Homo sapiens: one gene and its partner. The protein of the gene in region 1 interacts with the protein of each later gene in a biochemical or structural test. Each region holds a gene or a part of one and is shown in the gene's direction. Other genes may lie near its edges.

The links. Proteins that work in one complex are often made in the same cells at the same time.
Region 2: the proteins of MRAS (region 1) and RAPGEF6 form a complex in vitro, tested with the Homo sapiens proteins (one study listed by BioGRID).

What each region holds. Positions count from the first base shown.
Region 1 is NC_000003.12:138,350,896-138,359,022, forward strand, and holds part of MRAS (ras-related protein M-Ras isoform 1 precursor), read left to right. Parts: exon of another isoform or gene 1-4,523; intron 4,524-8,127. UniProt on the Homo sapiens protein: Signal transducer in the Ras-MAPK signaling pathway that regulates cell proliferation and survival. Core component of the SHOC2-MRAS-PP1c (SMP) holophosphatase complex that regulates the MAPK pathway activation.
Region 2 is NC_000005.10:131,422,928-131,429,863, reverse strand, and holds the end of RAPGEF6 (rap guanine nucleotide exchange factor 6), read left to right. Parts: intron 1-647; coding exon 648-962; intron 963-2,572; coding exon 2,573-2,598; 3' UTR 2,599-5,943; downstream 5,944-6,936. UniProt on the Homo sapiens protein: Guanine nucleotide exchange factor (GEF) for Rap1A, Rap2A and M-Ras GTPases. Does not interact with cAMP.

The sequences.
Region 1 (8,127 bases):
TCACGCCACTGCACTCCAGCTTGGGTGACAGAGCAAGACCCTGTCTCAAAAAAAAAAAAAAAAAAAAAAGTGACAAGTCAGTTACCCTTGGGGTTGGTTTGGTTCCTAAGCTCTAGTGATCACCTGGAACCAGGAATGACTATTGGCCTCTGATAAATTAGGCTCCTGGGATGACTGGTCCTAACCTCAGTCAGAATCACATGTTGACCAGCCTCCTGGATCTAGTGAGTTCTCAGGGAAATGTGGCTTCCATAATATATTTCACATCAGATTTAACCATTGTAATCTGTTCTGCCAATGAAATGCCCCCAAACAGAGTGTGTCTCCCTGAAAGCAATTGAAAAACATACCTGCTCATGAGCATTGTGTAGTTTGTACAAGCATACTCATGTGAACTGAATGGGAATGCATTCTTGTGCAATGCTGGAATGTTCTTAAGTGTCCAGAGGATGTGCATTGAGTTCCAGAGGCTCTGTACCTGCCAGGCCCTGGGCAGGCATAGAAGGTACAGTCACCTTTATCTGGAGACAGGTAAAAAAGGAGCTGGAGGAGTTCCCTGAGACCTGGGACACCTGGCAGGTACCCATTGTCTAGGGACTCAGCAGAGAATTCAAGCTTTAAGAGGAATTTTCTTGCTGGACTCTGAGTCCCTGTCAGCCCTCCTAAGTCTTAGATCATGCCTCTGAGCCCTGTAGTACTGAATCAATGGGGATGCTTTGGCTGCAAGTAACAAAACCCAAATAACAGTAAGTAAGATTAAGCAGAGCTCAGATCTCCCAAAGATGCTCTCTGCTCTTGGAAGGTCTCTGTACACAGGAATGGGATATCAGTGCCACTTCCAGCAAGTTCCTGCATGGGACAGGTAGCCATAAAGGCTGAGTGTCTGGAGTTCAGAGTAATAGGTTTTGTCTTCTTGAGTCACAGCCTCTTTAATATGTTGATGAGAAGCCCAGGGAACGTTGATGTACAAAGTTGGACATATAATTCAGGGGATTCATGGATCTCTGAAAACCAGCCCTGGATCCCAGTTTAGCCATCTCTGATCTAAAGGCACGTGACTTCTCTAATGTTCATGGCAGACCTATTCTGTAAGCCCATTGTGCAGCCAAGTCAGCATGCCATTCCAGTGCAGTGTGAGAGGGCAGAGATGGGGGCCAAGAGTACAAATAGAGTGGGACAGTTGTCATTGCCCAGCCTGTGAGTTGAAGTCTGTGCAGTCAGCCAGTGGGTCTGACAAAGAGGGCAGTGCTGGCACTGCCTCATGCTTCCGCAGAGGTGATGAGGTTCAGGCTGAGGTGGAGACCACGCTGCACTCGCCATGCATTCAATGGTGCCCCATCTCTTGTTCTCTAGGAAGCATTCCCGCTACCTGTGTGATGCAGTTGGTTCCACCTATTCCCAGAGACTCCACCCTGGCCCTCCTTGCCCTGGCCCCCAGCACTGAGCCCCTAGGGCCATTTAGCTGGCCAGCATGATCTAAGACAGCTTTCTGCAGGCATTCCTCTTGTAGGAGTCATGAAGCAGCAATGTGTATTTTGCTTCTTTTTGTTGTTGTTATATTAAAAAATATTTTTATATTCTAGTCCAATCCTTATTATTTGATTTTTTTGGTTATATGTTATATATAAAAATGTATTTTTTGTATTTTGCTTCTTAATGTCCCTATCATTGTCTTTAATATTCTTGGTAGCTTCACTAGGTGGGGACTGCTGCATGACAATGTGGGTCATCACCGGTTGCTGAAGTGACCTTCTGAGTCTCAGAGGGGTATAGTCCTCGCATCAGGCTACCTTGACGGATAAAACAATATGATTTACATATGGGTTGTAGTGCTAGTAAGATTTTGGAGAGCACCAATAATGAATTCGGCTGTGCAGCTTGTAGTGGCCAAGCAAAGGAGGGTGGGTGGAGAGTTGGGAGCTCTGGTTCTGGCCTCTGTGACCATCTGTAGGGCCTTGTCTGGATCCTGTGCTGCCTGGGCCCAGGCTGCATCTGTGACTTCTCTGCCCAGCCCTCAGTGTCGTCATGGGGATTAGATAAAATATACACGTGAAAATACGCTTGGGAGGCCAGAAAGGGCTGGAAGAATGAAGACCACTACCAGTATTCAAGCAACCTTCGGAGGACAGAATCCTAGACCCAGAAGGAGCCCCCTGAGTGTATTAAGTCGAGTCACACCCCGTAGAGCACATTTCTCATAGTGGTGAGGAAGATGATTTTAGGTGGGACACAGCATCTTTCATTTTAATAGTTATATGCTGGTTTATTTGAATGTATTATAAAAATACAGGCATCAGAACAAACTGGGAGTTTTTTAATGGATATTTTGCCCAGATTAAGGCTAAAGAAGTATTTTAAGTAAAAAAAAAGAAAATTTTTAAAAGTATGGTGGTTTTCAGATTAAGCTAGTTATAGTACAATAGTAGACAAATATGGCCCAAATGGGAAAGTGAGCCCTTGAGGAAAGGCTGGGAAACTTTCCACAAGGGGAGTCCTTCCTTCCCTGACAGCCCATTAGGGGTGTGTCTTTGACTTCACCTGGACCCTTCTAGAGACACAGTGTCTCTACCCTTTGAGTCAGTCCACTGCATTTGCGGATTCTCTCATTGTTGGGAAGTTCTTTCCCTTCTTCCCTTAACCTGTCCCACATGAACCTTTGACAGTCCTGCTTTTCTCCACCATGAGCAGCTTTACTTTCTTCAACTGCTCTTCAAATGTCATAGTTTAAAAACAGCCCCTCTGTATGTCCGTCCTTTCTTCCATCCATCCTTGCAGCCACCCACCTACCCGTCCATTCATTGATCCATCTCTCCATCCATCTTTCCTTCAGCAAAGACTTGTGGGCTGGACCCTGTACTGTATACTTTATATTCGCTATCTCTAAGCCTCACAAAAATTGTGTTAGATGTAGTTAACCTTTTATAGATGTGGAAACCGAGGCTCAAGGAAGTTAAGTAGGTCACCTGCAGTCATAACCTGAGAGAAGCAGAGTCAGAAAGGAATCTGGCCATGGTCTGTCTCTTCCTGAAGTGCATGCTCCTTCCGTTAGACCGTGCTGTTCCCAGCACTGGGTGACCAAAAATGTCATGATCCCTTCTCTCCTGGTGCTTAGGGGACCTATCCCATGGAGGTGTGGCTCTACATAATCAGTGCAGTGGGCAAAGGCCTCATGAGGAGCAGGGATGGAGCAGCCTGTGCACAAAGATGTGGTGAGGCAGCAGAGGTGCAGAAGACGCTGGCTGGCAAAGAGAGGCAGCGAGTCCCTCGCTGGCAGGAGTCTTCCCTGACTGTCATTAATCTTACAGTCACAAATGAACCCCTAAATCATTTGTGCACTTTTTTTTTTAATTTTGAAAAAGAAAAGTGTAAAGGGTAGTATAACAAATACCATGTACCTATTACCCAAGATGAACAGATGTGACCATTTTGTCTGCACTTGATCCTTTTCACAGTAGGGCTGGACTTAAAACCAGACCACTCATCCTTTGCCCTGGCCAGTTTGGCCCATCCTCAGCCTGCAATGGGCTTTTGGGAGCCTTGCTCCTGAGTTTTCATGTATTGGCTCTCTCTTGGGGCTTCATGTCCTCAGTTAATGCCAGTGGGCCTCCCTAGAAGTTGTTGACTAAAGAGGCTTTTGCTGCTTCTGACCACATTGTGGAGAAGCCACTCTGGGGAGAGTGTGTGTTTTTGGCTATGATCTTTTTCAGAGAAGTTCATCTACCCTCACAAACACCTGCCTTGACCATTGTGGGTTTAGCCAAGCTGTAGAGCATGGTTTAGTCATAGCTGCCTAAACTGAACTGTAATATTAATGATAGGTTTGTATGTTTGGAAGACAGAGAAAACATATTCTCTTTTTATAATTATATGACAATGATAACAAAATGCTTTTTGTTGTTGTTAGCAGTGAAGTCTCACTCTGTTGCTTAGGTTGGAGTGTGGTGGAGCAATCATAGCTTATCACAGCCTCGAACTCCTGGGCTCAAGCCATCCTCCTGCCTCAGCCTCCTCAGTAGCTGAGACTATAGGCATGTGCCACCATGCCCATCTAATTTAAAAAAATTTTTTTTGTAGAGATGGGGTCTCCCTTTGTTGTTCAGGCTCATCTTGAACTCCTGGTGTCAAGCGATCCTCCCACCTCGACCTCCCAAAGTGCTGGGATTATAGGCATGAGCCCCCACACCTGGACACAAAATACATTATATACTCTAAAGTATAGGATTACTTTAAGAGAAGGAAACTAAAAGTATGATGGCTTACTTTGTAATCCATAACTTCACAGTTTTCCCTTCCTGCAGCTTTCACAGAAAAAACCAGGTGCCTGGTACTGGGTCCTTCTCTCTGCCAAGCAGGAGTAAGGCGGCAGAGCCAACCCTGCATCTGCAGTTAGAAGCTCTCCATGACGACAGGACGCAGCTTCTCACCCAACTGTTTGCAGCCTTCTCCTTTCCACCTACTGATTGACTCCTGAGCTGAAGCCTGGTGTTATCCTGTTTGCATGTAGTTTGCCATGAGTTAGAACAGTGAGTAAAGCTCTGCTTTTTAAAGCTGTGCAGAAAGATTCAAAAACTTCTGGAAAGGCTTTCTTATCCAGGGCAGATTCTTGTCAGTCCTTATTGGGGACCGAGATTTCATCTGGTTTCATAATAGATAGTGGGGACCTGCGGGAGACCCCAAGTCCTCTTCATTAAGTGCTGAGAATGTCTTGAAACATTTTCCTTCCCTGAGTTGCCCTTAAAGAATAACACCACCAGGCTGGATGCAGTGGCTCACGCCTGTAATTCCAACACTTTGGGAGATTGAGGCAGGAGGATCACTTGTGGTCAGGAGTTCAAGACCAACCTGGCCAACATGGTGAAACTCCGTCTCTACTAAAAATATAAAACTTAGCTGGGCGTGGTGGTGTGTGCCTGTAGTCTGAGCTACTCCAGAGGCCAAGGCAGGAGAATTGCTTGAACCCGGGAGGCAGAGGTTGCAGAGAGCTGAGATCGCGCCACTGTGCTTCAGCCTGGCGACAGAGAGACTCTGTCTCAAAGAATAAAAATAAAAAATAGCACCACCAGATCCTTTTCCCTCATTCTGATGGAGATGCTGCAAAAGCCAGCGAAGGCTGGGTGCTGAGAGACCTCAGAAGGCCCTGCTTTACTGGGGCTTATCTTGCAATGGAAGCCGTACCAGTGAAGGCAGTTGAACATATTATACAACCAGTGCCTATGAGATTATGTGGAAATCCACATATGTGTTATACTTACAGGCATACCTTTTTAAAGACAAGTTTGGGTTTAAAAAGAAACTACTTGGCATACTGTATATTAGGCTGGCCCTAGTATACCAAGTACACAGATTAAATGTAAAAGTATTTGTGGGCATGTGGATCTGTGGGGAGATTGCTGGAGTGTAGTGGATTCAGGAGACTCCCCCACCCCTTTAGGAGCTGACCATTTATGGGGGGTGTTGGCGGCAGATTCTTGCCTCTCAAAAGCATTATGTATTCATTTCAAAAGCAAAATTAATTTTGGTTCAGTTTAGCTTTTTTTCCTGATCCTTTAGAATTTCAACGTGCCTTCTTGAAAATTCTCCCTTTTTAGATAACCCACAAATTCATTTCTTTATATTTTCACTCCACTGGAAATGGAGGCTCAAGGAGGAGACAGGCAAAGCCGTCTTTCTTGGCCAACACTGCTCTCACCAGTCTATCATGGTCTTCTTTCAATGTCTGCTTTATTATAACCAGAGATGATAGAAGGAGGGTGGGATCACTGTCCCGAAGACTTGGGGGCGTATATTTTTAAAAACTTCTATGAGCTATGCCTCCTTAGCCTTCCCTCTCCACCCACATTCCTCAGGTTGAGGTTCCTGGGGCAGAGCTGGAAGGCCTAGTCTGTCTCATGCTCCTGCTGAGGAAGTCCAGCCCAGGAGAGGCCAGGTGCCCTGGCACTCCCAAGCAATTAAGGCCAGCTGGCATCATAGCCTTCCCATCCACCCCTACTCACTGACCCCGTCCCCCCGTCCCACCCACCGCAGTGGACAGCTGCCTGAATCCACTAATCTGGGGCTGGGTGGGTGTTTCCTGCATGTTTGAGATTTTAGGAGGAAATCAAAATAAAGAAACAAAGCCTTTGTTTTATTTCTGGACTCCCAACTGGGTATGGCTGGAGGGATGGAAAGCAGGGAACAGGAGGAGCAGGTCACTTGGCACTTCAACAAAATAACCATTCTAATAGAGCATTTAACAGGAACTTTTTCTATTTAGGGTTGGGGTGGGTAAATAGGAAAGACGGCAGGGCTGGGAGAGCCCCTTTGTGTGGAAGGAGAAGGTGGGGCCGCCCTTGCCCCAAGCGGGGCCTCTGGCAGTGCCTGGTGTTCAGGCAGGGAGGGGTCTGAGGCCACCCAGCCGGGCTGCAGAATTGGCAGCCTGGGGACTCAGGGACTTTCAGTCCTCCCTTCCTGAAGGAACCCTCTGCTCCAGTTCTGTCCCACTACTTGTCTGTGTGAATCTCCACCTCTATAGCCTCCTCTTCCATATCTGTAATGGGAGTATCCCAGCCACACTCTGGCCTTTCTTCTCTAGTCCAGTTATACTGGGTCAGGCTCTCACCTGACATGTGGAAATGAAGAGGTACATCCCCCAGTATTTCTTAATTCTTCCAAAGGATTTTCTCCTTGTAGAAATTCTCTGAGGGTTTCATTTATTTTCTTTAAAAATTGCCCAAGTATTGATGACAGCCCTCCCCATCTGCAGTATTTCTGAAGATTTCAGGGTATGGGCCATGCCCACTGGCCGCCTGGCCTCCACTCCACTTTGCCCCATGTGCATACAGTAAGGTTGGCTTCTTCATCTGCTAAGCCACTATTATTGCATGTAACAGGCATCCACCAAGGGCTTTTAAGAAAGGGAGTTGTCTGCAGCCCAGATCAGGGCAGAAGTTAAAAATGAATGTCAGACACCCTCCCCTTGCTTGCTCACACCCTTGGAGAATGTCTCTGTGGCTGTCTCCTCAAACCTAGTTTACTGCTATTTTCCAGGGACCAATTTTCCTGGATACTTTCCCCCAGACCTTCTGAAAACTCCAAATTTTCATTACTTTTGATTGCAGAACAAGGATAACAATCTGTCTTAGACTAGGCTGTGGGCTGCCCTTGTCAGATGTAAAGGGGTCTGGGCATGGTGGCTCACGCCTGTAATCCCAGCACTTTGGGAGGCTGAGGTGGGTGGATCACTTGAGGTCAGGAGTTCGAGACCAGCCTGGCCAACATGGTGAAACCCCATCTCTACTAAAAAAATACAAAAATTAGTGAGGCCTGGTGGCATGTTCCTGTAGTAACAGCTACTTGGAAGGCTGAGGCAGGAGAGTCGCTTGAATCCAGGAGGCAGAGTCTGCACTGAGCCAAGATTGTGCCATTGCACTCCAGCCTGGGCGACAGAACAAGACTCTCTCAAAAAAAAAAACAAAGATATAAAGGGGCCATTAAATAACTCATCTAAAAAAGAATTAGGCACTCTAGACCTTACCTTTACCTACAGTAAGAACCAGCAGAAGTGCTGGGATTATTAAGCTATCATTATTACTAGCCAGGTCAAATCAGTCCTCTCCTAATGACCAGGGCAAAGCCAGGTGTTATTTTTTCCCTTTCCTGTTAGAACATTTTGTAACATAAGGATTAGAGATGATGTAGATTGACAATATTTATTGAGTACCTTCTCTGTGCCAGATATGTGCTGGGCATTGGAGATACAGTGGAGAATAGAACAGAGGGTGGGCCCTGCCCACATGGAGGTGACGGTCTAGTGGGGAAGATGCATTACATGTTTACGTCTTGTAAACAACTAACTAGCAGTTAAGTGCCAGCATACAGGATGCTGTCAAGGCAGACAGCTGGGTGCTTTGGGAGACCCTGATAGTAATCTCATATAGTCTGGGGTGCAGTGGGGGTCAGAGAAGTATATTTAAGGTGCTTAGCATGTGGTCAGGGCTTAATAAACGGTCATTATAATGACCATCCCTGGCCACAGGGCCCAGCCTGGTTCCGCCTCCAGCTGGTGGCTGCTACCACCCACCAACAATAGTTTTACACAGAGAGGTTTTTCATTAGGCCAAGGTTATACAGCTAGCAGAGGGGCTTTGA
Region 2 (6,936 bases), on another chromosome or scaffold:
CCAGGCTGGTCTCAAACTTCTCACCTCAGGTGATCCACCCACTTCGGCCTCCAAAGTGCTGGGATTACAGGCGTGAACCACCGCACCTGGCCAGAAGTAAAGTTCTTGAAGGAATTAGTTCCTCCGTACCAGCAAAGTTAAAGTTTATATGCTAGGACTGAGAACTAATCTGCCCAGGAGTGCCAGAAAACATTGGTTCATGTCTCAGAGAGAAGGTGAAACAGCCCTTAAACAGATGGCCCAAATGTCATTTCTATGTAAAGTCTCCCAGTTTACAGAGAATCGGTGTGTAGGGTGAACTTTTAAATGTTTCTGATATCTTTAGGGCTGGTGTGACTTCAGGAGTTGTCATGTACTTCTGTGATATGGGGGCTGAATTGCAGAAGGAAGCTTGTCATCAGTGTCATCTCCTTCAACTCTCTCGTTCTATTTAATGTTTACAGGACTTAATATAGTTGTTTATGTATTTTAAAAAGAGGTTTGTTTATTAAACTTTTAAAAAATGTTTTTGATCTGCCATCATTCAAGTTTATTCATTTTGTCTATTTTTAAGTTGTATTTTGTCATTGTAATAAGTTTGTGGGGTGGTTTCTTTTTTTTTCCATTTCTTTTTCATTAACATTTTCATTGCTTATTTTTCATGCCAGTGTACTGTGTCACCTCACCCAAGAAGGACGATAGGTATAGGGAGCCACCTCCCACTCCTCCAGGATATTTGGGGATTTCTTTAGCGGACCTAAAGGAAGGACCCCACACACACCTAAAACCTCCAGATTATAGTGTGGCAGTGCAGAGGTCAAAGATGATGCATAACAGCCTCTCTAGACTGCCACCAGCTTCTCTCAGTAGCAACCTCGTGGCCTGTGTTCCATCGAAGATTGTAACTCAGCCTCAGAGGCATAATTTGCAGCCATTCCATCCTAAACTAGGAGATGTGACTGATGCAGATAGCGAAGCAGATGGTATGTTGACAAGCTCTCTTAAAGGCTCTTAAATGAATTGCTGAACACATTAAATGGTCTTTACTTTGGTATTTTATGGTAATTAGTAATTGTTTCTTTAAATGCCTTGAATCTCTGTTAAAAAGTAAGAAGTTCCTGCCGGCAGGGTGCAGTGGCTCACACCTGTAATCCCAGCACTTTGGGAGGCTGAGGCGGGCGAATCACCTGAGGTCGGGAGTTCCTGACCAGCCTGTCCAACATGGAGAAACCCCGTCTCTACTAAAAAAATACAAAATCAGCCAGGCATTATGGCGCATGCCTGTAATCCCAGCTACTCGGGAGGCTGAGGCAGGAGAATTGCTTGAACCTGGGAGGCAGAGATTGCAGTGAGCCAAGATCGCACCATTGCACTCCAGCCTGGACAACAAGAACAAAACTCTGTCTCCAAAAAAAAAAAAAAAGTTCCTAAATATAGTATGGGGGAGTGTTTTGGTTTTGTTTTATTTTTCAAGATAGGGTCTAACTCTGTTGCCCAAGCTTAGAGTGCAGTGGCACAATAATGACTCACTACAGCCTCAGACTCCTGGGCTCAAGCAGTCCTCCCAACTCAGCCTCCCAAGTAGCTGGGACTACAGGTGCACACCAGCATGCCTGGCTCATTGTTAAATTTTTCCTTTGTAGAGACAGGGTCTCACTATATTGACCAGGCTGGTTTTGAACTCCTGGCCTGAAGCAGTCCTCCCACCCCAGCCTCCGAAAGTGTTGGGATTATAGGTGTGAGCCACCACACCCAGCCAATGGTGTGGGTTGTTTGTTTGTTGAGACAAGGTCTTGCTGTGTCACTCAGGCTGGAGTGCAGTGGCATGATCGTGGCTCACTGCAGCCTCAACTTCCTGGTCTCAGGTAATTCTCCCTCCTCAGCCTCCCAAGTAGGTGGGACTACAGGCACACACCACCACACCCAGCTAATTTTTTGTATTTGAGACAGCATTTTACCATGTTGCCCAGGCTGGTCTTGAACTCCTGGACTCAAGCAATCTGCCAGCCTCAGTCTCCCACAAAGTTGGGGTTATGGGTGTGAGCCACTGTACCCCGCACTGATGGTGTATTTTTTAAATGAAATGGGCAAGCTGCCTATTTCTGTGTGCCTAGTACCCTGTGGCTCAAATGGAATATTCTTATCTTTGATGAAACAGTGGCTCAATCTAATGGGATACTTTTAACATTAATGGAATTGTATTTTACCTTAATGCATGGAAACTTGAAACTGTGTTTCAAATGCCAAATTATCTGAAATGATTCTATTGATATAGTTCCTTTTATTAGCAAAAGTCTTGACTGACTTTGTACCTGTGCCAATAGTTTGAGAAATGATTGTTTTATTGAAAATAAATGAAAATTTATGCTTTTAAACAAGAGTAATAAAATGATTAAAAACCATGAAATTCCAGTTTATTGTCAACCTTCAATGTGATCAGAAATCATAGGTATTATTATAATAAAATCTGGGCCTCGATGCAATGTTTGAGAGGATTTCTTTGTTGACATTGATTTTCTAAATAGATAACTAGATTATTAGGATCTCATTAATATGCTGATCTGCCAGTTAATTATATATTTTTTATTTTCAGAAAATGAACAAGTTTCAGCAGTCTAGCCTTTGGATGACCTATTTGAAAACCACTGAAAGTCGTGGAGGAATGGGCAAGAACCACCTCATGATTCTGCAGGCCATTGCTAACGAACAGCTCATTGCTACAACCAGTCCAGAGGTTTTATTCCCTCTACTCCGAGCAATGAAATAGACCTGAGTTATGCTTCCTTTCATTTAATTTCTGCAGATAAATAGTTTCCTGAGCAATGGATGCTATGCCTGGATACCAGTCTCCACTTTGCACGCCGGAACTGCCTTGGGACCACAGTTACAGAAAAAATGTAAACTCAGAGTGATCCTTGTGTATATTGCTATAGATTTTTCTTTAACAAGCTATTTTAAAGATAATGGCATTATTATTTCCAAGCCATAGCTTGGGCTGAAGGACAAATTGAAATTGTCTGCCAATACCAAGGATATTCTTGTATATTTGAAAAATAACTTATTATTTGAATTGTTGTGGTTTTGTTTGTATTTGAGAGCTCTTGTTAGCTGATATTCATGTTTGAGGTCATAAAATTGTCTCTGGTCTGACCAAACAGAAGTCATCTTTACAGAGGTGATATGCTTGATCTACACAGAGATGTGACTTGATCTGTAGCACCAATGCAATGTAGGTCTCAGTTTGAGAGAAATAGGAAGCCCTTTGCAGTTGAGGTGTTAGGAACCTGCTGGTCATGGTGTGGAAGGCCAAATGAAGCTGCCACAGGGTTTCTTGTCAGTCCTTTGGGAAATGGGAGGGAGTAGTTTGGGGAGGAGGGTGGGAACCCTAATTTCCACAGAATGAAATTTTGATGTTAAATGACATGTATACAAATTCTTCCTTAAGTGAAAGTTATGCTGCATCGAATTGTAACTGAAAGTATAGATCCAACAAATAGAGACTGGGTTCTAGAGAGTTCTGGTCTATAGAAACCCAAAACTAAAATCTCTCATAACTCAAGTATGGAATACTTTTTTTAAAGAAATTCTTATCATGGGTGTTGTAATAATGAAGACGAATTTGACTTTATGCAGTGTTCTGCAGCATGCCTCCCCCACATCTCATAGCACCAGGTTGTGTCTGACCTGACATACCCTGCAGCTCTCAGCTGGCTGCAGTAACATTTTGTGGGAGAAAGAGGAGCTGGAGTTACAGAAATGATTGTCTCTTGGTTCTCAGTTTTTAGCCCTTGAGAGGACATACTTTTCCAGCCTCATGGGTATGGCACTCTTAATTAAAATTTCAGTGACTGTTTACTGGATGAGGCAGATTTTTCACATTTTTGCAAATTAAATATATTTTATATATATTAAGTTTAATTTTTTCAGTTTTTTTAATGTAAAAGCAAGTGAAATTTTAATAAACTTCTGTAATTACCAAAAAAAAAAAAAAAAAAAAAGCCAAAGCCATTAACGTGCACTACCCAGATCAACTTGGAGCCAAAAGGGGTTTACTTCTGAATGGCTGTCCGTATGTGTCCACATAGGATTTAGTTGGTTTGTGGCCTCCTTTATAGAAATGTGTTGTCTTTCCCTAGCTGTCTCTGCTGTCTGTCTTCCTGCATATCCCCCTTCATTTTAAAATCATGAATCAGTTGTAAGTGGTAAATGGTAGTAGTTCATCTTTCCCATCAACATGATTGTCTCTTTATTTTAGGAATAATAGCATTTCAAAAATTCCTGTGGTAAAGAAACATTAATCTGAAACTTAAGCCTTAGAAATTAATCGCAGGTATGATAGAATGAGGCTTGGTGGTTCCATAGCTTTCTTGGTCCTTTGAAATGGGAAATAACCTGAACCAAAAATCCTAGTTTGAAAGTTACACTTCAGTGATTTGGCCTATAAACAGTGGTCCTATGATTATACATTTTTTCCTTCACTGATTTGCATAATTTTGTTTTCATGGCCACAGCAAAACAATGTGAAATATATTTTTGCTATACCCACTTTTTTTATCAAATTCAGATGTCTACTCTCACCATTTTATATTCATTTCCCCAGAAAAATGTGCTGTTTTCATAATGTCTTTATTTAGCAGGTCTTTCAAACCAAATGGAAGCCTTACCTGTCTTTGTCCTTAATAGTGTAAATATCTTGCACAGAGTGTTGAGGCCTATGGTTTTGGACTTGCACCTTACAGCTGCCTTTGTTTTATCTATCTAGCTTTAACTGTGAGTGTTCAGATCAGCTGATCACATTGATCAGGAGCCAAAGCCAAATGCTTTGTAGTTTGTTATGTATGTATCCCTTAAAAAATCATGAGGTTTTGATTTTTATATTTTAACTAAGGGTACATTCCTGCCTTCTCTTAGTTTGTCATATGACTAGAACAAGAGAAGTCTTAAGCTGCATTTACTCCAATTCCAGATCTCCATTTGTTTTTGTTTTATAAATTTATAATCTTAATGAAGAGACTAGTGCCCTCTCTTCCTGCCACAACTCTCAATCTGCCAAGACTGTTGAAGCAGTTAACGCTCAGTGCAAACTTTTGCCAAATAGTAAGTTTCAACAAAATATCTTTATAGTGAAAGATTTTGAGAATTAGTAAATCCAGTACATGATTCCATAAAAGCTTATTAAAGTTAATAATTCTAATTTACTCCAAATGATTACTTTCAATATGATCTTTGGGGAGAAAAAGCCTTTAGTGAATTTTCTTGAGGGTGATAAATCACATCATTGCGATCTATATCACCTCCTTGAGAATCTCTCCCAGGCTGAAAATGTGATGGTAATCATGGGTGTTTTTAAGAACAAATCTAATTTTTATCAAGTGTTCTTTCCTCTACAAAAAAGGAAGGAGGAGAAAAAGCTTCCTTAAAACTGATTATTTTGATTCAATTTTAAGTTTCTAAAAAAGGTGATATTAAAGTATATGTATTCCTTCAGCATTACCTTAAAGGCTAGAAAAACGGGATAAATCTTCAGAAAAGTGTCAAAAGTGTCACAGTACATGTTCAAATTTAAACTTGAATCCTGGTTCATCTTTGACTTTTGTTGTGCATTTTTAATGCTTCTTTATTTTTGATACACAGAATGCAGTTGAACTTGATCTTTTAAAATTGAGACATGTAAGCTAATCAGCAAAAGACAGAAACAAAACTGCACATCTGTAATAATCAGATAGCAATTCTACTGCACAATTCATTGATTGTAAGGTATCCTGTAACAAGCAATGTTTGTCTCCTATTTTTTGATACCTCTTAAACTTATGTCTTTTAGAAAGACAGTGCCTCTGTATGCTTTTTGTATTTTTACTGAGTGTAAATATTTGTTATATTTTTGGTTAAGAGAATGTAAAAATACCATTTATTATTATCATATCTACTAATACATTGGTGGAATCAATAAAGAATCTACATTAATCTTCTCTGTACTTAATTATAAATGTATGGAACTGATGAAATAATTACAAACTTAGTCATTCGAGAGTGCCAGTCTGGGACCTGTGTTGGTGTGAAGGCCTTATTTTTTAACTATCCAGAAAAATTGGAGTGGTCCATTTGTTGTTGGTTATGTCAAATCTGTGAAACACCATAGCTATTGTTTAGGTTTAAAAAATTGTGTTTGATGGCATACCAAGTTAACAGTGGCTTAAACTCAATTGGGGCTTGTCTTTTTGTTATTGTTGTCTGTTTCTTTTTCTTCTTACAGTAGAAAAGTCTACAGACAAAACTGTCCGGGGCTGATACTGTAACTCCTCCACGATGCTGTCAAGGATGGCAAAAGTAGGGGTGAAAAGGATAGGCTTAGGTAAGGAAAAGGTGCAAATATGTGTCTCTTTCTACGCAAAGAGAACAAAACAGTAGTTTCCAGAAGCTCCACTTGCATGTTTGTACTTACATCCCATTAGTTAGACCTCTGTTGCATGACTGGTAGCTCCAAGGGTGCCTTGGAAATTATCTATTTTATCTGAGCAATTGATGTTCCTAACAAATTTAGGACTCTTCAGTGAAGAAGGAAAGAATAGATTTCAAATGGGCAGCCAGCTGGGTCTACGAAAGCATGCCTATTGCCCCCTCTTTTGGGCAGTATATGTAAATACAGCCACTTTTATGGGATTAGATCCCAGGACCCTGGCAAAGTAGAAGGAAATTCTACTTTAGCTCCTTTTTTAAAATCTCCTCACAGTTTTCCCTCGGTACCCAGAGAATGTTACTCCCATTATAGCTAAGACTTCTACCTTCTTCCAGTTCACCCCCTCTTCACCAGGTTTTCCCAGGCCATTCTGTCCCCCTGACCATCTCTCCACAGTCTCACTAGTTTCTTTATTTAGAAAATATATTTCTTCACCGGGCATGGTGGCTCACGCCTGTTATCCCAGCACTTTGGGAGGCCGAGGCAGGCGGATCACGAGG